Regions from separate parts of the Homo sapiens genome. Here region 2 is linked to region 1. Evidence: fine-mapped expression QTL. A gene starts in region 1. The other region holds a variant in brackets. All regions are shown on one strand. Distances are between the middles of the regions.

The links.
Region 2: its variant is fine-mapped to the expression of CNOT7 in pancreas (GTEx, PIP 0.94).

The regions. Positions count from the first base shown.
Region 1 is chr8:17,235,062-17,250,438 of GRCh38, forward strand. It overlaps CNOT7 (CCR4-NOT transcription complex subunit 7), which reads right to left and starts at 11,796. Exons shown (of 7, transcript NM_013354.7): 1 at 11,614-11,796; 2 at 9,975-10,186; 3 at 7,931-8,124; 4 at 2,151-2,312. The coding sequence starts at 10,091. VPS37A (VPS37A subunit of ESCRT-I) reads left to right here and starts at 11,897. Exons shown (of 12, transcript NM_152415.3): 1 at 11,897-12,308. The coding sequence starts at 12,184. RefSeq lists an enhancer at 11,545-12,393.
Region 2 is chr8:17,178,203-17,193,622 of GRCh38, forward strand. ZDHHC2 (zDHHC palmitoyltransferase 2) reads left to right here. Exons shown (of 13, transcript NM_016353.5): 2 at 6,587-6,613; 3 at 8,129-8,223. Among named protein-coding and RNA genes, the nearest start is that of ZDHHC2, 29 kb to the left of the region's middle. The variant C/T (reference allele first, on the strand shown) is at 5,993.

The sequences.
Region 1 (15,377 bases):
TATCACTTTATTATTCAGAGATATCAACACAGACCTACACTACCAAACCAGCCTATGGTCAATAAAATACTATTTTGTTGATATCTGAATAGAGAACACCAAGAAGAGTATCAAGCTGCCCACAGATGTCTCAAAATATTTTTTAAAGTAACTATGGAAATGGAGAAATAAAGATGAATGGAAACTTGGCCAGAAGAGTTAGCAAAGGTAGCAAGAGAACTGGCATTCGGTAGACAAAAGTAATGCAAGTCATCCCACTTTTACATAAGGTGGTCATATACTTTATCCAAAGAATAAGACTGTAACAAGGTATTTTCACTTCTCTTAAATGACTGTGTTAAGTAGTCTCTCCCTTTTCTTCCTTCACAATTCTCTTCCTTTCAGTGTGGCTCCCTAAGAGTCATTATTAATGGAAATGCTGCACATGGAAGAAGTGAAGGGTAGTAAAAAAATAACTACTCTCTTGATCATAAAATGCAAACTCCTACACTCTCAAATCCAGAACTCTTCTCCCTTTGTCCGGCCTTTCGCACAGCTTTCTGTCTCCCTACACTCCCAGGCCACTTAGACACGTCCGTCCCTTGTCTACCTTTCCTTCCAAGGACCTCTAACAGGAAGCCTATATGACATTTGCTCACTAACATTAAAAGATTATATTAGCGCTTAGGATTTATAAACTTCTTAAACTATTCTTCATTACTTGAAATTAGAATATGAGGAAAACAACTAATGATATTTAATGGAATAAAATCTTCTATCTTGATAAATATTCAAATATATCAGTCTAACTTAGATTCTAAACTCCAAGAAGACATGAATGAACCCTGTTTGTTTTTGTTCATCTTAATACCCAGTGCCTAGTGCACTGTATTTTGTCAGAGTATTTTTTAAATGAAAGGGTATGTCATATACAGTAAAAGGGAAGGGCAATACTTTCCAGTTCTTTTGCACCTTCATATCTAGGGAAGAAAAATGACTAAAAAAAAGGTATTTGTATCAAGAGTCTTAAGTTATGTTTCCTAAGGTACAAGTTCAAGTGCAGAAGAGACAAAAAAGATGATAGGTAAGAATGAGTGTGTTCAGTACCTACAACTCAACCATTTCTGGTTAGTACACATCAAAGTTGCCCACATGAACAGTCCTTCACTATAAACATCCCACAGATCAGAGACAGAAACTAAACATGCAGGAGACTCAGATTTAAGATACATGTGTGAAGTGGACCAAGTATGAGAGTATTAACATCTATGTAACACAATGCTTTTTCAAAACCTAACAAAAGCCAATATCATTCTGAAGGTTACTTTTAGTCCCTGGAACGTCAGTTTAGTTTACTTAGATGGGAAAACTCTTTTTCATACCTGGAAGTCTATTTCACAAAATCGGAATAGTTTCCTTACCAGAAACACTCTTAAATAATCTAGTTTCATAACAATAAAGAATTTAGAACCACCACTTATTGAGAATTTACTGTTTATAAAGTATTTTGGTGACCATTAAAACAAGTCTTCAAGCTATTTCTTCTAAGGGATGCCTTATCACTTTAAAAAAAAATTAAAATCCATCTCCACACCCATCCCTAGCATTTTCTTTGCTGTTTTGAGATAGTACTTATCACTATCTAACAAATCACAACGTGAACTCCATTTTTAAAAACTGTCTGCCCACCCCCATGAGAATATAAACTCCATGAGGAAAATAATTTTCATCTGTTTTATTCACACCTTAGTTCCTAGAATCTCATCTCAGTGCCTGCCATATGGTAAATACTCAATAACGTTGTGTAAATGTAAGTGAATGGTTTCCCCCGTAGAACATTAAAAACTAAGGTGTAGAAATAGTAAAAGAAAACCCTGGGTAACACCAATTCCAAATGGCGCCGCTGGATTTAAACCAGGGTCTTTCACTTTTTAGAGAACCTGTACTGTTTCCACTATGCAACATGCTTCTCACAGGCAAAAATGGATCCCATATTTTAAATTAACCTTTAAGCAGACCAACATTAGCCTCCTAAGAGTTAGGAGACAACTCTATATGGCAGTCAACTCTTTCCAGAATTAAACCTGAAATTGCTAACATAGTGACCCAAGTAAGTGTGGAGCAAGTATGAGATGGAAAAACAAATGCCATTTTCAATGTAGTCGTTTTACCTATGAAATGACAACCATTTGACCCCTTCACAGAGGACCACTCCAGAAGTCATAAGAAGTTCTGCAAAGTACTGGGTTTCAATTCCTTCCTCCTCATGTTTTTTAAACTGGATACCAGATGTTGTTAGTAGCTCTATAGAGTCCTGGGCATACATGTCCTCCCTGGCAGAAGAAAGAGAAAGACAACATTCAAACATGCCATTACTTCAAACAAGCTGTTCTTCTGCTTACATCTATAACTACAGTGCCAGAAAAGAGACAGAGGAATGGCTTGAGTCCACCTGTTTCAATGCTTTATATATATGCAAGAAAAATGCAATTTAAATACAAAGGTCATTATTTCAGAAAAGTGTTTCGAATAAAAAATCATTCAGAGAGTCCAAAGGTGCAATTTTAATCTTTTTTCTATTAACTCTATTAGCCTTTCATACTTAAATACATTTAACTGGGTTTGGAAAAGGGTCTCCTATTCACCAGGGGCTACCGTCGCAAAGTGACAGACAAGTTTTTTCAGAGACTCTCAGTCTCAGCAGCCACTGTAATGCTCCCAGATGGAGCTGCAGCCATAGCTGTGGGGCATATGCCCATCTCCCGTGCTCTCAGCAGCACCAGTAAGGAGACCCAGTGGAAAATGTCTCATGCGGATGAGTTAAACTACACTTCATCTTAAAGAAGGAGATGCCTCCTTTCACAAATGAGCCTTGCAAATGCCTCCAATAAGCAACACTGTATAAAGGACTGTACTGTAATAGCAATAATTTCTTCTGCCAACAATCCTATTCCTAAAAGACTGCCTTATAAAATCAAGCCAGGAAATCTAAATATAAACCAATTCTTCAAGATTTCACTTAAGCCAAAAAGAAAGCCATCTCCAACCTCAAATATATTTCCAACCACAAATATGTGTATCTGAAATATTAAAAGTTTCCAAAATATATCTGTATCTGAAATATTAAAACAAAAAAGTTACCAAAATACAGATACATTTTTGAGAATACGTGAAAAAGTGTTTTTTTATTTACTTTTTAAATTGTAAGAATACTGGTTTCTACCTCTTGGCAAAAGGAATTCCTATTAAACACTTGACAAATCTAAACCATGGGGTTCACTTCACTTGGGCCAAAAAGTATCGTTATGGTTAGTCCTTTAGAAATCAATTTATTTCTAAATGTCTGAAAAATTACAAAACAATGGAAATATTTTAAAAGAGAAGGAAACCACAACAATCACGTAAAAGTCAGTCTCCCCTGGAAAATCCTTTAGGAAGGGTAACAGAATAAACCCAATGAAGTAGTTTCTTTTTTTTTTTTTTTTTCCAGTGAAACCACAGCTTTCCTATGCTAAAAATATGTACCTCAAAAAATTAGAATCTCATTCATCAGGTCCCAGTGCTCACACTGAGGCATGCCTTAGCAACTATAAGCAATGAAAGGGATAAAAAACAGATTCTTCTCCAGGTGCACATCATTCTTGGCCATTTGCCAAGGTATAGGTATACAAGTAGTTTAGACCTTTTTCTCTTAAGTTTCCAATAACACCCTTCACCTGTCTACTTGCAGCATATGGCTTCACCCCATACCTGCTTTACAAAGAAACATCAGATTAATATTCCTGTCTTTCTTTACATCTACGTATGTGAAGATCTTTCTTACTTAGACTACAAAGACAGCTTGCCTCATCGCCAAAGCTAATTGCTACCAATGCCTTAGACGCTATTCCATGCCATTCCTCAAAGGACTTGTCAAGTGCCTATCTTTATCCTAACATACAACTCCTTAACTAACTCATGAACACACAAATATGTCTGTGTATTATCTGTAAAACAAAATAAAAACCACTATTCTGTTGATTCTGCTTTCCCTTCTTGAGACAGGGTCTGGCTGTCATCCAGGAAGCAGTGGCTTGAACACGGCTCACTGTAGCCTTGACCTCCCGGACTCAAGCAATCCTCCTTTTGTAGCCTCCCAAGTAGCTGGGACTACAGATATGAGCCACCATGCCTGGCTAATTTTTCTATTTTTGTAGACAGGGTTTTGCCATGTTGCCCGAACTGGTCTTAAACTGAGCTCAAACAATCTGCCCACCCTGGCTTCCAACTGGCCTCCCGAAGTGCTGGGATTACAGGAATGGGCTACTGCATCCAGCCTTCCTTCTTATGGCACTCTCTATCTCCTTCTTTACACTGCCACTTTCCTTAAATGAAGCATCAGCATCCTTTCTGTTACCACCAAACCCAAGGTGCCCTGTAATTTCTACTATCCTATTGAATTACTGCAATCACCAAAAGTGATTTTTCTTTTTTGAGACGGAGTCTCACTCTGTCGCCCAGACTGGAGTCAGTGGCATCTCGGCTCACTGCAAGCTCCACCTCCTGGGTTCACGCCATTCTCCCGCCTCAGCCTCCCGAGTAGCTGGGACTACAGGTGCTCACCACCACACCCAGCTAATTTTTTTTGTATTTTTAGTAGATACAGGGTTTCACCGTGTTAGCCAGGATGTTCTCGATCTCCTGACCTTGTGATCCGCCCGCCTCGGCCTCCCAAAGTGCTGGGATTACAGGCGTGAGCCACCACGCCCAGCCTAAAAGTGAGAATTTGTTAAAAATTTGTTTTAATCCTCTTTATCAGTGACATTATTTCCACAGAATGCTTCTCTTCTTCACAGCTCATCAGTACTCCACTTCAATTTTCATGGATGTATCAACTCCAAATTCAGTTTGGAGAGAATTCCCATACGTTACAATTGTAATTCTTAGACTTAGGCAATAGAGAGAAAACAGAAGAGTTACAAAACACTGAGTTATAAAGACCACGACCAACTTTCCTCAGTACTAAATCCCTAGTGTCTAGCACTGTAACTGACACTCATTCTAGCCACCCCATTAAAAAGTCAATTTTGATCTTTCTTCCAAATTTCCAAGATTCTCTTCACGGTGCTCTCTCTATATTAGGCATTACTCGTTTATCTTCCAAATGACTTCTTCTACCTAATGTTTTTCACTGTATCCTTCTCCTTAAACATCTCCTAACATCAGTGTAAATCAAGCTTGTCCAACCTGCAGCCAGTGGGCCACATGTGGCCCGGCATGGCTGTGAATGTAGCCCAATACAAATTTGTCAACTTTCTTAAAACATTTTGAGATTTTTTTTTTTTTTAGCTCAACAGCTATTGTTAGCATTAGTGTATTTTATGTGTGGCCCAAGACAATTCTTCCTCTAGTGTGGCCCAGGGAAACCAAAAGATTAGACACCCCTAGTGTAAATGGTAGCAAAACTTGGTAGTAAACTTTAGCAGTCATTTTTGAGTAAGAAAGAAAAAATGTCACTTACAGGCTGTACTAAGAAAGCAGTTGTTACTCGAACAAAGGTGTTTCTAGAAAAGGAAACTGTCAATTTTATCCAAACTGAGAAGCTGATGGGTTACCTCCTTCTCACGTACTGAGATCACAATAGTATCTAATTTAAAAACAATGTTCTAATTCACTTGAACAAAAAGTTAACATGGAACAAATGAAATGGTAAAGCACTAATTTTAATAAAGGTTTATCATTTGAGAAAAAGGATAGGAGGCAATTTTCAGTGTTTCACAGATGTAGTTCTTATAAAAGGTTTTCAGTTTGAGTGGAGTACTTTGCACCCTTTATAAATGAGGTGTTCAATCTTTTGGCTTCCTTGGGCCATACTCAAAGAACTGTCTTGGGCCACACATTAAATAAACTAACTTAAACAACAACAAAAAAATCTCATAATGTTTTAAGAAAGTTTACGAATTTCTGTTGGGCTGCATTCAAAGCCATCCTGGGCCAAGGGTTGGACAAGTTTACTTTACAAGGTTCTGTAGACTGTGCGTGTGTGTATAGATACAGGTATTTTTAGAGACAAAGTATCACTCTGTTGCCCAGGCTGGAGTGCAGTGGTGCAATCTAGATCACTATAGCCTTGAACACCTCAGTTAAAGCAATCCACTTGGTTCAGCCTCCCTGTACCTGTAGTGCTAGCTACCTGTACCTGTACCTGTAGTGCTAGGACTACAGGTACACAGCCACCATGCCTGGCTTAGTTTCATTTTTTTTTTTTTTTTTTGTAGAGACAGAGTCTATGTTGACCAGGCTGGTCTAGAACTCCTGGCCTCAAGCAATCCTCCTGCCTTGGTCTCCAAATGGAGAGTATATTATTAAACCCAAAAGAGTGAAATGGAGAGTCAGGCTAAACACAGTGTAATTACAAGCCACACTACTATACCACAGGCATCATTACTCTGCTTTTCCTAAGCCCTACTTTCGTAAAATTGTGTATACTAAATATCTTTGTTTATCTGACAAAGAACAGGAAGAAAGAATTCATACATTGGCACTACCATTAATTGCCTACAGTTTCTTTCACTATTTTACCTACCAGATATTAGGATGTATGACACAAATGTAGGATGTCAAACAGAAGAACAATGCAATATTGCAACATACAGTTAAGTACTCACTCAACGTTATCAATAAGTTCTTGGAAATTGCAACTTTAAGCCAAAAGATGGATAACGAAACCAATTTTTACCACAGGCTAATTGATAAAAACAAGAGTTAAGTTCCTACGGCATATTTCTGGTCACAAAAAAATCATCAAACTTCTAGATAAAGACCAAAATACTTCTAATATTAAACAATGAAATAAATGTGAGCTATATGTAAATTTAAGAACAATTAATAAAAACAAGATAATTATTTGCTCCATTATTCAGTTGAGGGGTGAAGAAAGCCAGAGCCTATTCTGGCAGCTCAGGGCACAATGTGGGAACCAACCCTGGTCAGCATGTCGTTCCGTGGCACAGTGCACTCACACAGATACACCTACTCACTCACACTGGGACAACTTAGCCACACCATTTCACCTAACGTGCACAGCCTTGGGATGTGGGAGGAAATCAGAGGACCCGGGAGAAAATCCACATATACACGAGAACGTGCACACTCCACTCAGGTAGTGGCCCGGGTCAGGAATCAATTTTATTTTTTATGAAGGTTACCATGAAACAATGTTGAAGAAAATGTCATTTGAGGTCCTGCTGTAATAAGAATGTATTATTTTATTTACCCAACTTAGTTTGCAAATAATCTGCCCCTCTCTAAAAACATCTAAAACTTCCCTTAGCTATCAAGACTACTTCTATTAATAATACAGAAATATTATAACTAAGGAAACTGGGTGAAGACCCAGGGCTTGAGTTAGAATGAAGATTCTGACATATGATAAACACCAGGTTCAAGGATACTACTACTTCTCCTATATGTAAATTAAGAGAGCTTTTGTGGGCTGAAGTGGCAACCTAATGATAATACTGACTTGAAAGGAAAACGTACCCAAGGTTCCAGAAAACGTCTTACTGCATTTGACATGTAATCTACTCATAAACTGGAATATGAATGCAACAAAAATCTTCACAAGAAGGATAAATATTATAAAAGGCTATATTTCAAATTGCACACAAAATTTTTGAAAGTAAAACTAATGTAGGATTATTTTTTCTATCAGAAGTACTTTCAATACCCAGTCTTCCAAATACAAAAAAAGCTGCAGTCATATTTTAAATATAACATCTTTAACATCAAAGTATTTTTTTTGGTCCCATAGTAAAAAAGAAAACCACGCTTTTGAAATGTTACGTTTTATATATTTCCAGGATAACTACACCAAATTCACCTAGCATGTCACCATACTTGAGGAAAATCAATTCCTAAGATTAAAGAAAAAAAAAAAAAAGTCTGGGTTATACAGTTATTTCCCACTTACGTCAAATTAAATTTAAAATTAAACTGCCAAGTTGAAGTTCCTGGAGGGTATTCTCCTTGCTCATTCATAAATGTCAGTCCTAGCTGAATTATCTTTAACAAGTCTACATTACACCGCAATAGTTGGTATTGATAGTCAGCATTGCTCCTGAATTCTCCAATGGGTCTTGCAACCACACCTGGAAACTCGGTGTCCTGTAAAATAGTTTTAAGATTCATTATGTACTAAACAGTCAAAACTACAATCCACACATTTTTAATTTTTGATGCAAATCAAAGAATCCTACAGATGATATTCTACACATTTATATTCAATTACAAAGTATATTTTAACTAGAAAGAACATCACTTTTTAGAACCATAAAACTCTATAAACTTAATAACCTTTCCTTAAATATATCCAAAAAGTTACTATACGAGATACATGTGATAAATTTAACCAAATACTTACTCTATAACCAAGAAAGGGGGGAAAATCATAAATTCCTGTCTCCCAAAGGATACATGAAATGATGCTCACAGTATTCCAATGCTAAAACCAAGTTTCTTGAAGAACTGGTTCAAAAGAGGGGAAAACGCCCTGTACTTTCCAATTGCTTCTCTGACACAAGGTTTTTCTCAACACCAAAACCCTAAGAAAAACATCATTAGCTTCCTAATTTCTCTGGCTTAAACAATATTCTCTCTATAGTCCACAGAAAGCATGCTGTCAAGAATTGCATGCCACCTACTCACTCTTGTAGGATGTTATCACTTCTCTATGTTGCCACTCTTTATCATCTGAGAAATCAATGATCACTATGAATTTCCATTGGTTAAGAAAACAATTTTAGTTCTAATCATGGGTAAGTACACCTTTATCAAATAGTATGTCATCTACAAAGAAACAGTCATATTTTAACCAATCAACTTGCTCCTCCCCAAAGTAATGCATTTGTTTATTTTTATTAAAAATACTGAGACAAAGATACATCGGTTTAGTATTAGAATTCAAACTAGGGCTAGCTAAGAATAAAAACTACCTATCAAGTCACTATGAAATAGTAAAGAAATCAATATTTCTCTAAATTCAGTGCAATTCAACAGCCACTTTATTGAATACTATATGTGTTATGCTAGGTGTTGGGAGAGAAAGGATTAAAACACTTGGTTTATGGAGCTAATAATAATCCAGTGGATGTAGAAAACAGTAGGGTAGCTAACAGATATAGACAGTATAATGGTAAAGAAGAAAAATCATTAACTGGATAGACAATCTAGGCAGACCAAACAGCACGTGCAAAAGCAGAGTTGCTTAGTAACACAGTATATTCACAGAACTCCAGTGTTAATTATGAAAACAAATTGCAGACCAACAACGTTTCACTGGCACATCTGATTTTTTTGTTTGAGAAAGAGCACCCTAGCTTCTGGGAGCTCATGTGGTACTACCAGCTAGGCTTTGGTGTTGCTAGGAGCAGACCTGGCACTCATAGCCACGCCCTAATGTTCTCCTGTTGAACACAATTTCACAAAAGTTCAACCTCAAATAAGGCCACTCTGTAATCATGTCTGAACAAGGACAAAAAAATAAAAATGTCAAACCACAAAATGACCAAGTATCTCCATCCTGGCTAAATGAATGACTGTTCCTTCTCTGCAGCTTTAACCTCATTCTAGTCTCTCATTTAAGACTTAGTAAGATACCCAATCACAGAATTACCCCAGCTTCCCGAACACATCCAATCCACAGTAAAGCTCTGCTTCCCTTACCTTCCCCTAAGACCACCTGACACGAGCCCAAATCCTTCCTAACTCTTATTCAAACGGCCCATGGTTCCCATGAATTCCAGTGCGTTTTCCCTCACTGCAATGAGGGATAAACCCAACCTGTCAAATCACAGGTGTATTCCTGATGGATTTTGGCTGGAGGGCAGTGACAAATTTTACTTTTCATGGTGAAATTAATCCCTAAAAATATCAACCAAAAGGGTTGAATTCAAGACTTTAAAATTTCCTTTTCCTCCTTTATATGAAGCGTTTTAAAGATCTGCTTGTGGGCATACCATAGCAACGTAATTATATTTTCGGATAACTTGACGAATTTTCTTCATCTCTTCATCCAAGTTGCAAGCCCAAACTTCACAAATTCTTTGGCTATGATCTACAGTTGCCGCTGGCATAGTGAGGGCACAAGGGAGTCTAGATGCCAAGCATCAAAATGTTATACTTGATTGAAGATTTGTTTCATAAAATATTTTATCCTTTATTTATGTACCTGTCAAAATAAAAAAACAATATGAAGACCAGATATATCAAATCTGAATCACAGAATAATTGATCCAGCAGGAACCTAAGAAGTTATTTATTCAAAGTTCTTGACTCATAAAAAAAAAAAATCAAAGTTTAGAAAGTAACTTAAGGTCACACAGCTAGTCTATAGGAAAAAAAGGACTACAGTACAGATTTCCTGGTCCTAATTTCAGTTATTTTAAAATAGCTTTTTTACACATACATACTAATCATATTTTATAACTTTCCACTAATTATTTATCTGAGTTCAACTACTCTGCATAAAACTTTATAAAGCCATCCATTTCCAGACAAAAAATGAAAAATTACTTATTTACATGTGACAAGATCAGATGTTACCATGGCAAAGATGGTGTTTATTTTTATTCCTCATTAATAAAACAACCAAAATCCGACTTGATAACAAGATCTACTTTACCGGCGTTTATTCTAACTAGACTAGAGGGGTCAAAAATGTTTGTAAATGCTCTGAGAAAAAAGTAACGGCCATGAAAATTATCTGAATGTTCGCAGTTGCAGAACGGAAAAAGAACACAATAGAACGTCTAAAACTTAGAGCATATTGCATGGTTACCAAAGATAGATGTCACATTTCTGGTCTATAAACAGAGTTCCTGTTGATTCTTGGGCAGGGAAATTTCAAATCCTTCTGCATTTTTCATACAAATTGGAAAAAAAAAAAACAAGAGTAAAAAGAGGGTCTTATGACTGTCTTCTAAACTCTGAAGAGTCACAAATGTAACTTCCAATTCTCCAAGTAGAGAAACTAAAGGAGATCCAGGACACCCCTCCTTTATAACTCTCCCACCCCGATAGGCACACACACACACATAAGCACAAAAACACAAAGACTTGGAAAGACCCTGTAGTCTAACATTGTTTTCCTCCACCTCTCTCTCTACTGCAGTCCCAGAAGCCCCGAAGAGACACCAAAGGCCTTCTCATTACTGGAGAAAGCATCTCCGTACTGCAGTTTCCCAGAGAAACGAGAGGACGGCACCGAGGTATTCAAGCCATAGATAACTCTCTTCCCTGGCAAAGCGCCAGTGCGAAGGTGCTGATAACACTGACTGGAGCTACACTGACTCCCAAGCACTGCCGCGTGAAACAATACGAAGAGGTGAGGATCTAGGCCACCGCCCTCCACTCCCAATTTCCGTCCCACTGCGAAGCCCCAGGTACAAAGCCTTTGCGTCATCACTACGCGCCAACCCCTTGACAAACCCCCAGCCCCAGTTACCCAGCCCCCAACCCGCCGCCAGGCTCCTTCCTCCGCCAGCCGCACTCCAGCTGGCGCCATCGCGCACCCTCTCAGGTTCATCGTCCCCGCCCCCTTTCTACTTCCCTAACCCGCCCCTCCCCCCGTAAGGCTGCAGCGGATGCAAGATCTACTTGTGTCGCTGAGCTCGCGCTCCTCCTCCTCCTCCTCGCCATAGAGACAGCACTCGGCGGCGGTGGCGGTGGCGGTGGCGGTAGCGGCGGCGGCAGCGGGTGCCCCATAGACACCTCTCGCCCAGCGAAGGGAAAGGCGAGCAGGAGCTGCGCCGCACCGTGCTGCGCCGTCGCTTTTCGCACGTCCTGACGGGGGCGCTAGATGATGACGCGACACGCAGAGGGGGCGGAGAGCGCCCCCGGGGGCGGGGCACGCAAGTGACGGCGGCGCGGGTGGTGGAGCGCTGGGCGGCCAGGCTCCCTGGCTGGCCGGTTTGGGCGTCTGGGCCGTGAAGGTGGGACCTCCTGTTCCGGGCCGCAAGTTTCCCTCTCCAGCCGCCCGCCGTTCGTAGCATGTCCCCCAGAACTCGGGGAGCGCAGGCAGGACAGGCTTAGAGAAGACGCGGTCCCCAGCGCTTGGGCCACGGACGTCCCACCCCGCTCCTCTGTCGCTGGAGAACCGCCGGGCCGAGCCACTGGGAGAAGCAGGCCAGAGCCTTCCAGGGCCTCCGGCCCGTGGACCCGAGGAGGATGAGCTGGCTTTTTCCCCTGACCAAGAGCGCCTCCTCCTCCGCGGCTGGGTCCCCCGGTGGCCTCACCAGCCTCCAGCAGCAGAAGCAGCGCCTGATCGAGTCCCTCCGGAACTCACACTCCAGGTGACTGGTCGCTGCCTCTCCACCGGAGGAAAAAGTAGGGTGGGAGGGCGGGCTTGTCCTAACCACCCTCACAGCGCCTCAGTCTGCTCCCCACCAGCTCCTCATGTGGTTTACCTCCCTTGGTTGTGGGTCACACGCTTGCTCTGCCACTCCTGCCCCCTTTTACTGTTTTCCTCCGGACCCTCCCTGCCTCCTGCCGCACCACTGCTCAGCGCTTCTAACTCGGATTTCCTCATCCCTCCTGACACATAGCTGCTGACTGTAATCTCTCAATCTCTCTCATAGTCTATTTCCAGTATCCCTTGCTGCCCAGGCTTCGCCACTGATCTTTCCCTTTGCCCACCTGATTGCCGCGTCAGCAGAATTGTTAAAATACAATTGTGAAGAGTAATCTCCAGGTTTCACAAAGAATGGAAAATAGAACTGTTGCAACATCAAAGGAAAGGGAAGCCAGAGTTTTCATCAGTGAATGCTTCTCGTCTGAGAGTCACTTATCACGTAGTCAGTCTTCTTGAGTCTCTAAGATTTACCCTGTTGGAGCAGTCTCTCCCCATCTCACAGCGACCAGTGCATGTACATTTCTCACTTCTTTCATAGTCTTGTCCCCACGCTCAAGAATTACTTTATGTTCATCTTGATTGTTCTGTTGTCTTCCTGTGAGTTTTTCATTTTATCATGGTCAGTTTAGAAATATTTTTACAATTCATATTATTTCAACTTTTACTGTAAATTGGTTTGCTGCAGCCTTTTACATTGCAAATGTCTATGGTCTCTAATGGTTTTCAAAAATTAGAACTGCTTCTTTATATTTTATGCATTTTGCAAGTATATTTACTTAACAGTTTCACACTATTTTAAATAAAGATGACAACATTGTTAAGTCCCTAACCCCTTTTTTTTTTTTTTTTTTTGCCGGGGGTACGGCTCTCCTGTTGCCCAGGCTGGAGCGCAGTGGCGCGATCTCGGTTCACTGCAACCTCCGTCTCCCGGATTCAAGCAATCATCCTCCCTCAGCTCCCCACACCCCTCCGAGTAGCTGGGATTACAGGTGCGCGCCACCATGCGCGGCTAATATTTTGTATTTTTAGTAGAGACGGGGTTTCACCACATTGGTCAGGCTGGTCTCGAACTCCTGACCTTAGATTATCCACCCGCTTCGGCCTCCCAAAGTGCTGGGATTACAGGAATAAGCCACCTCGCCGGGCTCCTAGCCCTTTTAAAAATATTATTTTCATACAGTTAAAAAATATGTATCCTCAGATAATATCGAATAATTCTTATTTAAAATGGAATAATTTTTAATTAAATAGTCTAGTTAATAGAAAAATTTACTGCAAAATCAGTTTGGCTAAAATAAGGCCTGATGCTGACTGAACTTTAGGTGTTTCTTGGTTCGTTGTCTCAATTGTTCTGTTTGTTCAGAACTTTCAAAAGGTGAAATTTTATGCTGTTTAACAGAAAAGAATGGCAGGCTGTTATTGGTGGCTTTCATTCTGGAAAATTAAGTTCGCAAAGTTCTTACAAGTCACTCTTACTCCAAATCATGTTCTGTACTGACCTTTAAGAGCTACTCTCACAAGGTATGCTTATAAAATAAGGGGACTCGTTTTTAACATGTTTGTTCCCTTAGAAGTTGTTACCTTGGTAGACTATATACCAAACCAGTCCTGCTATTGCAGAAACACTTTTTTAGAACCACACTTTTGGAATTAATTGCTTTTAAACCTTAGTATGTAGTATTATGTTAAATATTTTCAATGCTGACTAATTTTTTTCTTCGAGGTTGGAGTTTAATTTTTTAAATACTACAAAGTCTCTTGCTGCTAAGGCTGGTAAGTAAGGGAAGTAATTGATGTGAAATTTATAATTTTGGCCTCCCAAATAAAGTGAGATTCTATAGCAGCAATTGTTAATGTAAAGAGTTCTGGAATTGGCTTAAGAGGATCAGTAAATACGCGGAGTTGGATACAGAAAGGATTCATTTTATGTATTATTTTTTGAACCAGAAATTATGAACGTATGATTGGACATGATTACATTAGATAATGTAATTTATTTTGTAGTGTTATGAACAAATAACTAAGTATTTTATTGTTTTAAGTTCTTTTATAAAAACACTTGAAGTTTTATTGAGATGTTTCGCATTTACAAATTATACTCGAATAATTCCGGAGACACTTAAGTAGGTCATATGCTTCCAGTTTTCAAAGAATGGCACAATCCTGGAAAATGCCACTCACCTATTCTTGTTAGTCCACCCTTTTAAATAATGACATATATTTGTAAGCTGGGAGGTAAAAAATAATCTGTCTGTATGGTATCTGATGTAAAGATGGAAAAGGTGTGATATTTTTTCTCATCAGTCATAAGGGGCACAGCTGACCCTCCTGTAACAAAAGACAGGTTAACAAGCGAAAAGCATAACAGATTTATTTAATCAAAGTTTTACACTGCATGGGAGCCTTCAGAAATGAAGCCCCAGAGACCGAAGGAAAACTGTCTGTATTTATGATTAGGTTCAATGAAGAATGGACAGCCATGTAGAAATGTGATTGGACAAAAAGAGTATGGTAATGGTAATAGACAGAGGTAGGGGAAACCCACCAAGGCCTGTTTGTTCAGATTTTTCTTGGCTTCTCTGTATAACTTTCTACTCCTCTAGTGGACCGGCCCGGGCTCATATGGAGTGAGGGTCTTCAGGGCGGAAGGGAAAGTGACCTTTCTAGATTTTTTGTAGGGAAGAAGGGTTGTAGTTTGTAATATACCGCCCAGGGGAGGAGGAATTCTGGTTTCTATGACTTCTTCAATGGAGAAAGAGGGGCAGGAGGTGGTCAGAGAGAGCTTTACTTCTGAGGCCCTCCAGACTCCTTTAATTCAAAGTAATCAGCCTACCAAAGTGCAATATTTTGGGGTATTGTTTTCTGAGCCCCAATACTGGCAATATGTTGCCTGATTACCTAAATTAGTGGTACGACTTACACTTAAAAGATTTTTGTGCGAACAGACAGATTGGTTATTCTAAAGGTGTGGTGTGTAAAAGTTGAAAGAATTTCCAGTGTGTTTTTTCCT
Region 2 (15,420 bases), 57 kb before region 1:
TACCATTTAGGACAGTAACACTTTAATAATAATCACCAAAGCCAATTTTTAAATAATCAATTGGTAAAAAATGTACGAGTGGAATAACCGTTGAGATGATCTCCTGCTTTTAATCAAGGTTGAATTTAAATCATTCTAGACTAAATTAATATATATAAATCATTCTAGACTATATTAATATATAGTATCTATATATACACATACACACACATCCTATTAAATCTTTTTCTGTGGAGAACCCTGACTAATACATAGGGCTGGAATACTTTCTTCATAAAAGGCTAAACAGTAAATATTTTAGGCTTTGCAGTCCATACTTTCCCTGTCTCAGCTACCTAACTCTGTCATTGTAGCACATAAGTAGCCATGTAAGTGAATGGATGCATACATGTTTCAATAAAACTTTATTTATAGAAACAGGCATCTAGCTGTGTTTGGACCAAGGGTTCTAGGATTAAATGATTGCTTGGTAGTTCAGTCAAAAGAGATAAGGGAGGTATACATTTGAAAGGATGTTTCATTCAAGCCAGGTTGGATTAAGGAGCAGTTTGTCATCCTTTTCTATATTATGGGTTATTACTTTGACAGTCTCACTCTTTAACTTCAATTTTACCTGTTTTATTTTTACACAAGGATTTCTTAAAAAACAATTAATGTTATAACAAAAAACTGTCACTCTTATCAGTCTTACCAATTCTAAACTGAGGACTGATTAGTTCAGCCTTTTTATATGTTGTCCTACTCTGTTTCTTTCTCTCTTTTTTTTGAGACAGGGTCACGCTCTGTTGCCCAGGCTTGAATGCAGTAGCAGGATCACAGCTCACTGCAGCCTCGACCTCCTGTGCTCAAGTGATCTTCCCACCTCAGCCTCCCGAGTAGCTGGAACCATGGGTGGGCACCACTATGCCTGGCTAATTTTTAAATTTTTTTGTAGAGATGATGTTTCACTGTGTTGCCCGGGCCAATCTCAAACTCCTGGCCTCAAAACTATGCTCTCACCTTGGCCTCCCAAAGTGCTGGGATTAGAGGTTTGAGCCACTGTGCCTGGTTGTCCTGTCTTTCTTACGGGAATGATCAGTGGCGGTGGAGGGGGTGAGCGTAAAGCGCAGCCAGATAATACAACTGGTGACCCAATCTACAAGCTTTGTAGCATCGATGATGGTTCTAGATTTTAAGATGAAGTTCTTTTTTTGTTTTCTTTATTTCTTCTTCTTTTTGTTTTAAGAAACAGGGTCTCACTCTATCGCACAGGCTGGAGTACAGTGATGTGATCATAGCTTAGTGCAGCCTTGAACTACTGGGCTCAATCAGTTCTCCTGCCCCCAGTCTCCCAAGTAGCTGGGACCACAGGCAGTGCCACCACACCCAGCTAAAAAAAAAAGTTTATTTGTAGAGACACAGTCTCAATGTGTTGTCCAGGCTGATCTCCAACTCTTGGCCTTAAGTGATCCTCCCACTTTGGCCTCCCGAAGTGCTGGCATTTCATGCGTGGGCCGCCCAGCCCAAAATGTGATTCCTGAAGGCCATAATTTTACTTTTGGCAAACAGGAACATTCTTGGTAACTATAGTAGTAATTTACCTTTTTCACTTTCTCTCTTCCTATATACCGTCAGGGCCAAGAAAGTGCTGCAGTTCCCACAATTAATCACAGAGGAACTTGAAGTTCTGGAGGTATATTGGAAGATTAGAAATTGCTAAAGCAAAATATTATCATTGTAGGGCATGGACCAAAAAGAAATTAGGCTAATCCAAGATAAAATGAGGCAAATAAGTGTTTGAAATTAAAATTAAAATTGTGATTCACAGTGTTCCTATTGTGTGTATTTAGATGGTATGAATGGTGCCATCCACCAGATGTAGGATTGGTAAATATTTTAGTGTAATAATAGCAATGCTTTTAATTCCCAGGAATAAACTGCACCTAACTTCTTTGGGGTGATTATAAGATTTAGGTCTTTATTTTTTTTTAAAGTAATTGTTTTTATTCATTAAGTTAAACAGTGCCTATCCAAAATAGATTCTTTCACATTTAAGTTCTCAAAAGGACTAACTGGCACATCAAGATCGAAGTTTTAACATCTCATCATTACTCTGTGTTAAGAATGAAGACCACTTTTTTGGTTTAAACAAGTTTCTGAAATGACACATCCGTTTAAAAAGGCAATTGACTTATAAGATAATTCAGATTTACATTATTTTTCACCTTTTATTTTCACTCGCCAAGTCTATTTTTGTTCAACATTTTGCATTTATTTCTTTCAGGAGCCTGTACAAATATTACTTTTCTCTTTGTAATTTGTCTTCCTTGTTTAGCCCCCTTTCCTATACGTTATACATTACAGTTAATATTATCAAGATGAAAGATGATATATTATAATTGTACATTCATGGGGCTTACTCTACACAAGGCACTGTGTTAAGTACATTGTTTTATTGTCCCTTTGAATTCTCGCTACAGCCCTAATGCTACTGCTGCAGCAATCACCCTCATTTTGTAGTGGAATAAGTGGGATAGCTTATGTAAGCCAGCAAGTGGCAGAGGCAGGATTGGACCTTGCCTTCTTTATCCCCAGCCATTGCTCTTTGGTGCTATTATGCTTAGTAATAATCTCTTTTCCATTTTGACAAATTCAACTATAAAAAAGTACAATACTAAGGAAGAACCAAAACCAAGCTGGGGGTGGAGGGAACCCTGTGAACTTATAGACCCTGTCTGTCTTCAAAGTTGCTTGAAGCCCAGTTGAAGCCAGTATCTCCCTCAGCTTTTTCCTTTTTAAAGGAACAGGAACCATTTTGTCTTCTCCCTCTCTCCTCTCTTTAGAGAAGTGTTTTCTTCACCTCACAGAAGAGATTACTTTCGCTTTTTTCAACTATCAGTTGAGTGCTATGGTGTGCTAAGCTAACATGGTAATAGAAATAACTTTTCTCTTGAGTTTTTCATGCCCACAAAAGAAAAATGAATACTTCTCATATGTCCGCTTTGATATACCAGTTTTATGTGATTCAAATTAGTTGTCATGGTCTGTTTGTCTAAGTCAGTCTCTTACTCAGTAAACATTAATGGGGCAGATGCTCTATGCCAGTTCTTGTGCTTTAATGAGGAATTAATTTTAATATGATCCAGCAGAGCTGGAAGTTGTAACGTTTTTGTTACAGGCAGGAAATGTTTAAATTGAAAATAAAAGAATTTCTAAGGTAGAATTAATGTGCTATTCGTCGTGACTTTGAGAATAAAGCTCATTTGCTTTAGTAAAAACTGAGTAAACCTCAGTTTTCTGTTGACAAAAATTGAAATAACTATTAATTTATCTCAATAACTGGTTTAAAGGAAATGAGATAAAGAAGGCTATACAACACTTGAAATTTCTCTATGGTAAAAATTGAAGAATAGGTATCAGCATCATTGTTAAATCAAACAAATTGAAATTCTGTCTGTGAAGTAAGAAAATTAAATAATCCTGGATTAAAACTCAAAATCCACATTAAAACCAATAGTTATTTTTAGAAGACCTGTCCCAATTATGTTCAGTATTGCTATTTAGTTTTTGTATTGTTATAAATAATCAAATTATATTTGATTACCATCTATATTGTTTCAAAAATGAGTCTCTATTTTTCATATGTTATCTTTATATACATAAATATTAGAAAAGTGTTTGAGGCTAAATTTGAGCAATCTTTTCTTGAACAGTTACTTTTGAACAAAAATATTTGCATTTGACAATAACTTTGTATTTTATGTGTTTTTACTCTGTGAGAAAGGAAACTTTGAACTTGACAACTCTGCCATTAAACTGAAAATTACAAGGTAAATCACTGATTTACTAATTAAGTAACCATGGTTGAAAGAACATTCATTTCCTGAGTATCACAAAGCAAAACCTTGCATAGTCCATATATCTGTTAATGAAATAAGTTAATTTGCAAACTTTGATAATGTTACTTAATCAGTGGCAAGTGATAAAAATGTTGCTAGTACTTATTAAATCATTTAAAATAGCTATATGCAGTTTTATTTGCAATATATATATAACAGATATGAGATTTCTGTCCAGAATATATAAAAGGCTCTCAGTAACTAAGTAGGCCAATAGGAAAATAATCATTCACATAGAAGAGAAAGGAAATCCCAATCATAGTGTTTTAAAAATAATGCCAAACTGCACTAATAATAAGGGAAATGAATGCTAAAATAATGATTTTTATTTAGGCCTATGATGTCGACAAAAATTAAACAGAGTTACGTTTACAGGAAATTGAACCGGCTCATAATCTTGGCGAAAGTGTAATTGGATACAGCCTTTTGAACTGATCCCTTTCATTCTACAAATGTTACACAATTATTTACTATAAAGATGAATTTATGTGTAAGTTGTGTACTTTTAAAAAAATAGAACATCTGTGGATTTTGAATTACATTTAGGGAAAAGCAAACTGTGAATGGCAATAATAATAATAATAATAATAGCTTTAAAAACAAAGTCTTTGAATGCATATCAGGCTTATAGAGTAGTGGTCCAGGTCAAAAAGATTAGCAACTCGTACCAACTACACCTTTTTTTTTGTTGTTGTTTTTGAGACAGAGTCTCACTCTGTTGCCCAGGCTGGAGCGCAGTGGCGTGATGTTGGCTCACTGCAACCTCTGCCTCCCGGGTTCAAGCGATTCTCCTGCCTCAGCCTCCAAGTAGCTGGGATTACAGGCGCGTGTCACCACACCTGATTAATTTTCTGTATTTTTAGTAGAGACGGGGTTTTGCCATGTTGGCCAGGCTGGTCTTGAACTCTTGACCTCAGGTGATCCACCCACCTTGGCCTCCCAAAATGTTGGGATTACAGGTGTGAGCCACCGTGCCCAGCCCCTAACTATACCTTTTTCAAAAATGTCACTTTGTCTTAGTTTTCAGTTCTCTCCACTCGAGTCAGTGGAGTAGCAAACACATTTGTATGCAAGCACCAGCACCTCTGGAATGGTCAGTAAGGGTCATTCATATATAAATGCACAAATGGAGTCAAATTGCTTTTCCTTTCCTTAGATTGGCTCCACTGAAGGATTGGAAATTTTGATCCAGAAAAGAGTTGTCAATTTTGGAGCACTTTTGAAGACAGGGTGTAGTCAGTGTCTAGAAAGAAATGCATACCTGTGGCGGTAGGTTCAGATATTAAAAAACAGGCTTGCCTCAAGCCTCTCCTGTGCCCTCAGATGAGCTGCTTCAGGGATTCTATGAGAAAGCAAACTCTGACTAGCCTCTGACTTACAAGCGGACTTGGAGAACAGGCCATTTGTAAATCGAAGGTCATCCAGGCCTGCCTGTCTCATTCTGGAGATCAGAAATGTTAAAAGGAGTGGAGAACCTAGGAAGCATTTACAGATGCCACATCTACGTTAGTAAGAGATCTGGAAACCATATATTAGTTGGTGTAAACTAGAACATTTAAGGGGGACACTATAACATCAAATATGTGAAGATCTGTCATTTAGATCTTCTGTTTGTTGCTATGGTTTGGAAGCCTCAGTATCACAGGTAAAAGTCACAAAGCAGCCAATTTCAACACCCTGGAAGGATGAATTTTCTTATTCTTAGGGCAATCCAACAGTGGAACGGGCTGCCCTCCAAGAAACTACGGGCTTCTGCTAGCTCTAGAAATGCCTGAACTTATATTTGGTAGCTCTCTTGGGCAGGAGATTGGTTGGACTGAGCAATCTTAAAAATTTCTCACACTACCCTCTGGTTCCAGGCTTCAGAAGGCAGCGCATTTCATTCCAGCACCAAGGCCTGAGGTCCCGTGCCCTTTTGAAAAGCTGAATAAGGACAAAAATATACAAAGTCAGACTTGCTACAGCTGAGATAGGGCAAAACTTCCAAAGACTCTAGTACAAAGAGAGAGACCAAATGGGAAAACAAATAGACAATACAAAAGGCGTACATATGTCTTGATTACTAAATACAACTTCTTGCCGCAGCTTGCTTTAGTGCTTGTGGCCCCTGTCCT[C/T]ATCTATAATACCTGCTAGCTTGGAATATTTACAACAGCCGCTGAGGAGTGGCAGTTTCCCAGCACTGCCTGGCCTTTCGTTGTGCAACAGGGAGCAAGTAAAGTCACTGTGCATAAGCATTTGTACTTTTAGAAATTAGGGGGAAAAAAAGTGTGTGCTGTGGACACATTTTATTCTTTGTGGAAAGCTCACCAGGTGGTTGCCAGTTTATCAAGAGCAATAAATGCCTGCGGAAATGTAATGACCTGGAGAGCATTGCTTTTATCTGAACTCTATAGTTGGAAGGAAAACCAGTCAACCAAATGATACAGAAATAAGACCCGCAAGGGGCACACTTGACAAGTTTTGTTCCGCAGGACAGGAGCCAGGGCTGAAGTGCGCAATGGAGGCATGGCTGACTGCAGCCTCCAGCCGTTTCCTGCACCCTCTCCACACTGTGCTCACCTCTCCTCCAAATAAAGTTGAATAAATATTTAGAGAATGTTGGTTTGAAGGGAAGCCACATTATTAAGCTACTTAAATGCCTTATGTCTGTGTCAAGCCCCGTTTGCCATAAGCTTCATGTAACCTATTACCTTTTTTTCTCTTTACAGTGTCCATGGAAAACACTGGCGAACAAGGTAAGCTAGATTATATTAATGTTATAGATTTTTTAAATAGTTTGAAAAAAAATTGTATTCACTTAGATTTGGTTGGGATTAATAAATTGTTGTTTGAGAATGTGGAGACAAGCTAGGGTTAAAGATGTCTCATTTCTCTTAAGTTTGCAGATTGAATTCTGTCAGACCCTTGGCAAAGAATTCTATCCTGAAATGGCTGTCATTGTGCCAGAGATTCTTAAGGCTTTGAGGTATAGGGATATCAACAATTTCCTTTCCTAATTCAGATTATGAACTTATAACTGAGTCACCTACATAATTTATGAAAAATATTGTTGGCTTTAGTCATCTCACACCGATTTAAGTGCCTTATTGAATAATTCAAATTTTTAATGATTCTATGAGTATCCTCATTCTTTAGAAAAATTTAAAATTGCTATTAAAGTTTTAAAATGCCAAATATGCTATATTTAAATTAGCATATTTTATTCAATGATATCTTACAGAATTAAATTGTGTATTAATGTATTACCCAGAAGGAAGCATTATCACCATATAGAAAATTAATATTTAAAATTTGGGCCGGGCACAGTGGCTCATGCCTGTAATCTCAGCACCTTGGGAGGCCAAAGCGGGCAGATCATTTGAGGTCAGAAGTTCAAGACCAGCCTGGCCAGCATGGTGAAACCCTGTCTCTACTTAAAAAAAAAAAGAAAAATACTAACATTAGCCAGGTGAGGTGGGGCATGCCTGTAATCCCAGCCACTCAGGAGGCTGAGGTAGGAGGATTGCTTGAGCCCCAGGGGGCGGAGGTGGCAGTGAGCCACTGCACTCCAGCCTGGGCGACAGAGTGAGACCCTGTCTCAAAAAAAAGGAAAGAAAAGAAAAGAAAATTTTGGATAGTATTTCAAGACTTTATAACACCACCCAGAGTGTGTTTATATGCATTACTGAAAAAAGTATTCAGAACACTTTTTTAAAACAATTGTCCCATGTAATAAATAAGACACTTGAACTCCCACTGAAGGAAATCTCTTTGTCCAGATGTTCTCCATTTAAATGTGTTATCATTACACCAGCTTTGACTAGAGCCAAGCAAATAAGCAAACAGCTTCTCAAATAGGAACTGCCTTTGTTATCTGTGTCAGTAAAGCAAAGTTCTTAAAGCCTGAGTGTTTTAACACTTGTTTTTAATGCTGTGTTTGCTGTTTAAATTTGGAGGCGTAACTGCCTCATTTTTACAATTTAGAAAAGGTCCTTGTTAGTGATTTTGCCAATAGATGGTCTGTCTACAGATGGGAGGCTTTTATTCATGGGCATAGATCTCATTATGCATTTAGGAATTTTTGTAAAAAACTCTTGGCTTTGGAAATAAATTCGTTGAGTTGTGTTTATTCTAGTATAAAGTAAAGGAACTTTCATAATGTATTATAATTGGTAATTTGGTTATTTTAAAACAAGCAGATCGGTTGTGACTGTCATAATTTTAGTATGTATTTGCATATTATAATGATAATTATGTTTTTCTCATTTTAGTTGTGTGCCTGATGGCCTATCATCTACTTTTTGCAATGTTTGTCTGGTCATACTGGAAAACTATCTTTACATTACCAATGAATCCTTCAAAAGAAGTAAGTTAAAATATTAACGAAATTATTCTAATAATAGAAATCAATAATACTGATGTATTATTGAAGAACGAATTTTATTTTAATGTTGCAAACTTATTGAGTTTAGTGACTTTTTAGATTAAAAAAATTAGTATTTCTGTTAATAAATACTTGAATTTTCACCTGGAAATATTAGTGTTTTCACCAGATAAGCACTGCATTTTCTGTATTGAATCTGTTATGAATTCCATTTCCACTTTAGAGTCAGACATCAGGATGGATGGATAGGTAGACAAAGATAGATAATAAAATAGAGCTAGAAGGTAGACATAATTCTATGATAATTATCACATTAAAGGTGTATTAGTTGGTTATCAGCCACCAGAAACAACAACAACAAAATAATGGCTTAGCTAATCTTCTCTGCATTCAAAAAGTCTGTAGCTAGTCCACAGCTTCCAGGTGCCCACACTCCTTCTATCTTGTTTCTCTGCCACGTGTAGCCTCCATTTCCAAGGTCCCCTCTTGGTCTAAGGGGGACTCTGCGGTTCCAACCATCACATCTACATTGTAGCCAGCAGACCAAAGAAAGTAGGAAAGAGAAGTAAATGTCCTCCTCTTCAAGAACACTTTCTAGACATTGCTGACGTCATTTCCACTTACATTTAGAAGTTGGTTATATGGCCACATCTACCCACAAGGAAGGGGGGAGTGTAGCCTTTCTTCTCGATGACCATGTTAAACATGAGAGAAGAAGAGAAATATGGTTACTGAGAGACAACTAGCAATCTCTGCTTCAGAGGGCTTTAAGTAGAGTGATGGATCAAATTTGCATGTTGAAAAGATCATTCTGTTTGTTTCTGGATCATGCATCCTGGTTAAACGTTCTTGGAGCAAAGAATTGTGTCTCACTCATTTTTGTATCCTTGGCGTATAGCCCAGTACATTGTTGAATAAAAATATACTTTGCTAACTCTAATAACAGTGTAGTTTTAGTAAGCCAAGTTTAAAAAAAAAAAGCATCACTGTAGACTGTTTACTGAAGTAATCAGTTTGAAATGCAACTTTGGTCAAAAAAGCCAATAAATATGCTATTTGGCTTGGGAGAGGATGGTAAAAACCACAGATGTTTGCGCAGAATTAATGGTATGCCTGGCTTAGAATGCCTATCTATTGCCTGTTTTTCTTCTATTCTCCACTTCTTTTTCTATCCCAGTCTTTTTTTTTCCTTCCTCCTACCATATTTGCTTCTTTTCCATCATCTCTCTTACCCTCATCCTGTCCCTAGTAGTAGGTTTGAAGAAAAATACTGACTTCTATCATAGGTAGTCTCATCCACTCTGGTAGTTTACATACAACCTCTGTTTTGATAACTCCCAAATCTGTTTTGAGTTCTAAACTCCCCCTTAAATTTCAAACTTATGTATCCCCCTGCCAAGCATAGCTTCTTGATAATTCCACCAACATCTCAAATACAAAACATCAAAAACAGACGTCATCACCTTCTCCTTCCCCAGACTGTGAGTCATCTGTTTCTTATGTCAGTTAATGGGCAGTTTATCACTGCTCTAATTCTGGGTCTTCATCATCTCCCTTGTCTGAGATATTGTATTCTTCTCCTGGTAATTTGGTTATTTTAAAACAAGCAGATCATTTGTGAATACCATAATTTTAGTCTGTACTTGCATATTATAATGATAATTATGTTTCTCTCATTTTAGTTGTGTGCCTAATGGCCTATCATCTACTTTTTGCAATGTTTGTCTGGTCATACTGGAAAACCATCTTAAGGTTTTCTGTTTACAGCCTGGCCTACCTTTCCTTCCCAGAACCCCACAAAACTTCATCCAATACCCTGAAGCTGGAGTGGTCCTCCTAAAAACCAATGTAACGCCTTCCCTCTACTGCTTGTATCTATTGTGATTCCATATATCCCACAGGGGAAAGCTCAGTCTCTTCTGCCTAGCAATAGCAGCTCTTGTCTCAATTTCTGACTTTATACTTTATACTCTAGTAGTTCTTAACTACACATAGTTTCCTGTATACAACATGGCATTATTTCCTTTCCAAAATATTCTTACCCCTTTCTCATGGAAATAATATATTTATTTTCCATTCATACTGGCAGCTCCTTCTTGGCCTCCTTTGCTGGTTCCTCTTCAGCTCCTAGACTGCCAAAGCATTGGAATGTTCCAGAGCTTAATCCCTGGACTTCTCTTCTTATATACCTGCATTTATTCCCTCGTGGATTTCATTGAGTTCTGTGACTTTATGTGTCACCCCAGTGCCGCAGCTCTCAGATTAATATATTAGCCTGGTGCTTGCTAATAAACGCCTGACACATTTCCAGCTCCCTATTTGACATCTAATAGAAATTTCAGGTTCAACACAACTGAAAACAAACTTCTGATTTCTCATTTAATTCCCCAGTTCTTCTAGTCCTAAAGTTTTCTTATGTCAGTAATGACAGTTTCACTCTTCTGTTCAGGCCAGAAACATTGGTGTCATCCTTGGCTACTCTTTTTCTCTCGGACGCCACATCTAGTCAATCAGAAAATTCTATACCCTCACCCTCAGAGTATGGCCACAATGTGAACTCATGTGCCGCACTGCTCCCTGCTCCCACCCCGGTCCAAGCCACCATCCTCTCTCATTTATAGATTTGCAGTAGCCTCTTAACAGGTTTCTTTTTGTTGGGTTTTTTTTTTTGGTGTTTTGTTATGTTTTTTTTTTTTTTTTTTTGGCCTCCTCTTGTGTATTTTCAACACAGTAGCCAAAGTGATCCTTTCAAAAGACAAGGCAAATCTCTCACCTTTTTGATGTCTTTATACAAATGGTACCTTATCATTGAGGCTGTCTGTGATGACTCAACATAGAATAGCAACCCCACTACCCTCGGCTTTCCCTGCACCTTACCTTCCTGGATTTTTCTCCATAACATTTACCATCATGGCAACACACTGCATATTTATTTGTTGAATACTTTTGAAAATACACCATCGTTAGAATGTAGGTTCCATAAGGGCGTGAAATGTATCTTTGTTCACTGCTTCATCACCAGTGCCTAAAGCAGTGTCTGACCTATAGAAGGTACTCAAGAGATACTTTTTAAGTGACTAAAAGTAGGGAAGAAGTTATTCATACACATGCAGGTTTATTTTTATGGCCTTGGCAGGAAGTTGAAGTGACTTCTAACTTCTCTCTAAAATTATATATGACATCATTGGCTAACAGTGAAGACCTAAGTGGGTTAATTAAGGGTTGGGAGAGTAGAGAAGGTTTGAAATAGTGGATTGGACAGAGTGGCAAAAGGATATGAAACACACGGAAGAAAGAACACAGCATTGAAGGAGCAGTCAAATCGATGACAGTGACATTATAACGGTATCAGGCTTCATTGTGTGATTTTTCTACAAAAGACGTACCTTAGTCATACAACTGTTTGAGATAGATACTATTTTTTACTATTTTACAGATGGAGCCACTGGCTTTGAACATGAAACAATTAAGGTATCTAGTGCTACTGTGTGGGAGAGCTAAGGTTCAACCAAAAGTCCTTTCAACCCTTAAGGACACTTTCTTTTCACTACACCATGCTCTAGTATGGAGAGCAAGCACAATGGGTGGGAGTGCCCAGGACTTCAATTGAAGCATGGGGGAAAAATAGCAAAAATTTTTTTACGTATTATTCATTTAATATTTTTATTTTTTAAAGTTTTGTATATGAGGTACATAAGCTATTAGCTGATAAAATATATACCAATACACTTGAACCTGGGAGGCGGAGGTTGCAGTGAGCCGAGATCGCACCACTGCACTCCAGCCTGGGCGACAGATCGACACTCCGTCTCAAAAAAAAAAAAGAAAAGAAAAGAATATATACCAATAAATACTCATCTGTTAGCAGTGTGATCTCACGTAATTTTTTACGGTTAGGGGAACATGATCAAAAGAGTTTGGAGACCACTGTTAGGAAGAAAGAGCCCTTGTCTGGTGGTTAAGAACCTTAGAATATTCCCTTTATAAAACGCAAGGTCTTGGGCTATTCTTTTAATTGATCAGCTGTTAGAGACCTCTCGCTTGTAAAATGAGGATCCTGAACTGAAAACATGTGAATTAAAATTTGCCCTTTTCATAGCAAGATTGTTAAAGTGATAATAGTTTTTCATTGGTAAGATTTTCTCAATATAAAAGTAATACAACCGCACTAAATTATATTTTGAAAATGAAGACTAGGCAAAAAGAAAAAAGAGAAAAATCCGTTACACCAATTCAAGCACTTTACATTCTGAATTTCTTTGTAGTTAAAAAAAACTTGTGAGTACCTAATAGATATATATATTTATGGGGTACCTGAGGTATTTTGATACAGGCATGCAATGTGTAATAATCACATCAGCGTAAATTGGGTATCAGTTACCACAAGCATTTGTATTTTGTGTTACAAAAAATCCTATTATACTCTTAGTTATTTTAAAATGTACAATTAAATTATTATTGATTGTAGCCGCCCTATTGTGCTGTCAAATACTAGGTCTTATTCATTCTTTTTTTTTTTTTTTTTTTTTTTTTTTTGAGATGGAGTTTCGCTCTGTCACCCAGGCTGGAGTGCAATGGCATAATCTTGGCTCACTGCAACCTCTGCCTTCTGGTTTCAAGGGATTCTCCTGCCTCAGCCTCCCAAGTAGCTGGGATTACAAGTGCCTGCCACCACGCCCGGCTATTTTTTGTGGTTTTAGTAGAGATGAAGTTTCACCATGTTGGCCAGGCTGGTCTCAAACTCCTGACCTCGTGATCCGCCCACCTCAGCCTCCCAAACTGCTGGGATTACAGGCATGAGCCATGGCACCTGGCCCAAATTTTTGTATTTTTAATAGAGATGGGGTTTCGCCATGTTGGCCAGGCTGGTATCAAACTCCTGACCTCAAGTGATCCACTCGCCTTGGCCTCCCAAAGTGCTGGGATTACAGGCATAAGCCACTGCGCCCAGCCTTATTCATTCTTTCTAACTTTTTTGGTTTTGTTACCGTTAACTTTCCCCACTTATGTCCAAGTTTCCTACTACCCTTCCCAGCCTCTGGTTGCCATCCTTTTATTCTCTATCTCTATGAGTTTAGTTGTTTTAATTTTTAGCTCCCACAAGTAAGTGAGAGCATGCAAAGTTTGTCTTTCTCTGCCTTGCTTATTTTACTTAACATAATGACCTCGAGTTCCATTCATGTTGTTGCAAATGATGGGATCTCATTCTTTGTTTTGTGGCTGAATATATTCCATTGTGTAAGTAAACACCACATTTTCATTATCCATTCATCCATTGATGGACACTGAGTTTCCTTTCAAATCTTGGCTATTGTGAGTAGTGCTGCAATAAACATGGGAGTGCAGATTATCTCTTTAACATACTTGTTTCCTTTCTTTTGGGTATATACTCACAGTAGAATTGCTGGGTCATATGGTAGCTCTATTTTTAGTTTTTTGAGAAACCCATCGTAGTAGTACTAATTTACATTCTCACCAACAGTATACAAGGGTTCCCTTTTCTCCACCATCTCACCAGCATTTGTTATTGCCTTTATTTTACTTTATTGGTATTTTTTGAGGTAAGGTCTTGCTCTGTTGGCCAGGCTGGTGTGCAGTGCTGCAATCACAGCTCACTGCAGCTTTGACTTCCTGGGTTCGAGCAATAGTCCCACCTCAGCCCCCTAAGTAGCTGTGACTACAGGCATGCATCACCACGCCTATCTAATTTTTTTTAATTTTTTGTAGAGATGAGATTTCACTATGTTGCCTAGGCTGGCCTCAGACTCCTGGGCTCGAATGGTCCTCCCGCTTTGGCCTCCCAAAGTGCTGGGATTATAAGCATGAGCCACTGCACCTGCCCTTTGCCTATCTTTAGGATAAAAGCTATTTGAACTGGGGTACGATGATAACTCATTGTAGTTTTGATTTGCATTTCTCTGATGACCATGGATGTTGAGCACATCTTCATATACCTGTTTGCCCTTTGTGTGTCGTCTTTTGAGAAATGTCTATTCAGATCTTTTGCTCATTTTTAAATTGGATTATTAGATTTTTTTCCTATAGAGTTGTTCGAGCTCCTTATACATTCTGGATATTAATCCTTTATCAAATGGGGAGTTGCCAAATACTTTCTCCCATTCTGTGGGTTGTGTCTTCTCTTGGTTGATTGTTTCCTTTGCTGTGCAAAAGCCTTTTAACTTGATGTGATCCCATTTGTCCACTTTTGCTTTGGTTGCCTGTGCTTGTGAGGTATGATTCAAGAAATCCTTGCCTACACCAATGCTTTGGAGAGTTTCCCCAACGTTTTCTTTTACTGGTTTCATAATTTGAGGTCTTAGATTTAAGTCTTTAATCCATTTTGATTTTTGCGTATGGCAAGAGATATGTGTCTCATTTCATTCTTCTGCATATGGATATCTAGTTTCCCCAGCAGCACTTACTGAAGAGACTGCCCTTTCCCCAGTGTATGTTCTTGGCATCTGTGTTGAAAATGAGTTTACTGTAGATGTAAGGATTTGTTTCTGGGCTCTCTGTTCTTTTCCATTGGTCTATGTATGCCAGTACCATGCTATTTTGGTTACTGTGTACGAATGCTAGTCTTACGCCAGTACCGTGCTATTTAGGTTACTCCCCTACACTAAACTCTGTAGTATAATTTGAAGTCAGGTAATGTGAGTCTTCCAGTTTTGTTCTTTTTACTCAGGATAGTTTTGGCTATTCTGGGTCTTTTGTGATTCCATATACATTTTAGTATTTGTCCTCCTTGGGAAGGCTTTCCAGGTTAGGTGTTGTGATCTAAGCTGCATCTGCATTAGGAGATACCCCAATCCCAGTAATACTGTGGTTCTTACAGACTGGTAGATGTGTACTGCCTTGGTGGTCTTGGATAAGATTTGGAAGAATTCTCTGGATTACCAGGCAGCGACTCTTGTTCTTCTGCCTTATATTCTTCTAAACAAACAGAGCCTCTCTCTCTCTCTGCTGAGCTGCCGGGAGCTGGTGGAGGGGTGACATGGCACCTCTGTGGCCAACACCACTGGGACTGTGCTCAGTCAGACCCGAAGTCAGGATAGCATTGGGTCTCGCCCAAGGCCCATTATGTCCACTGCCTGCCTCCCCCATCTGCGTTTGCTCAAGGCTGAAGGGCTCTGCAGTCAGTAGGTAGCAAAGTCAGCCAGGCTTGGGTCCTTCCCTTCA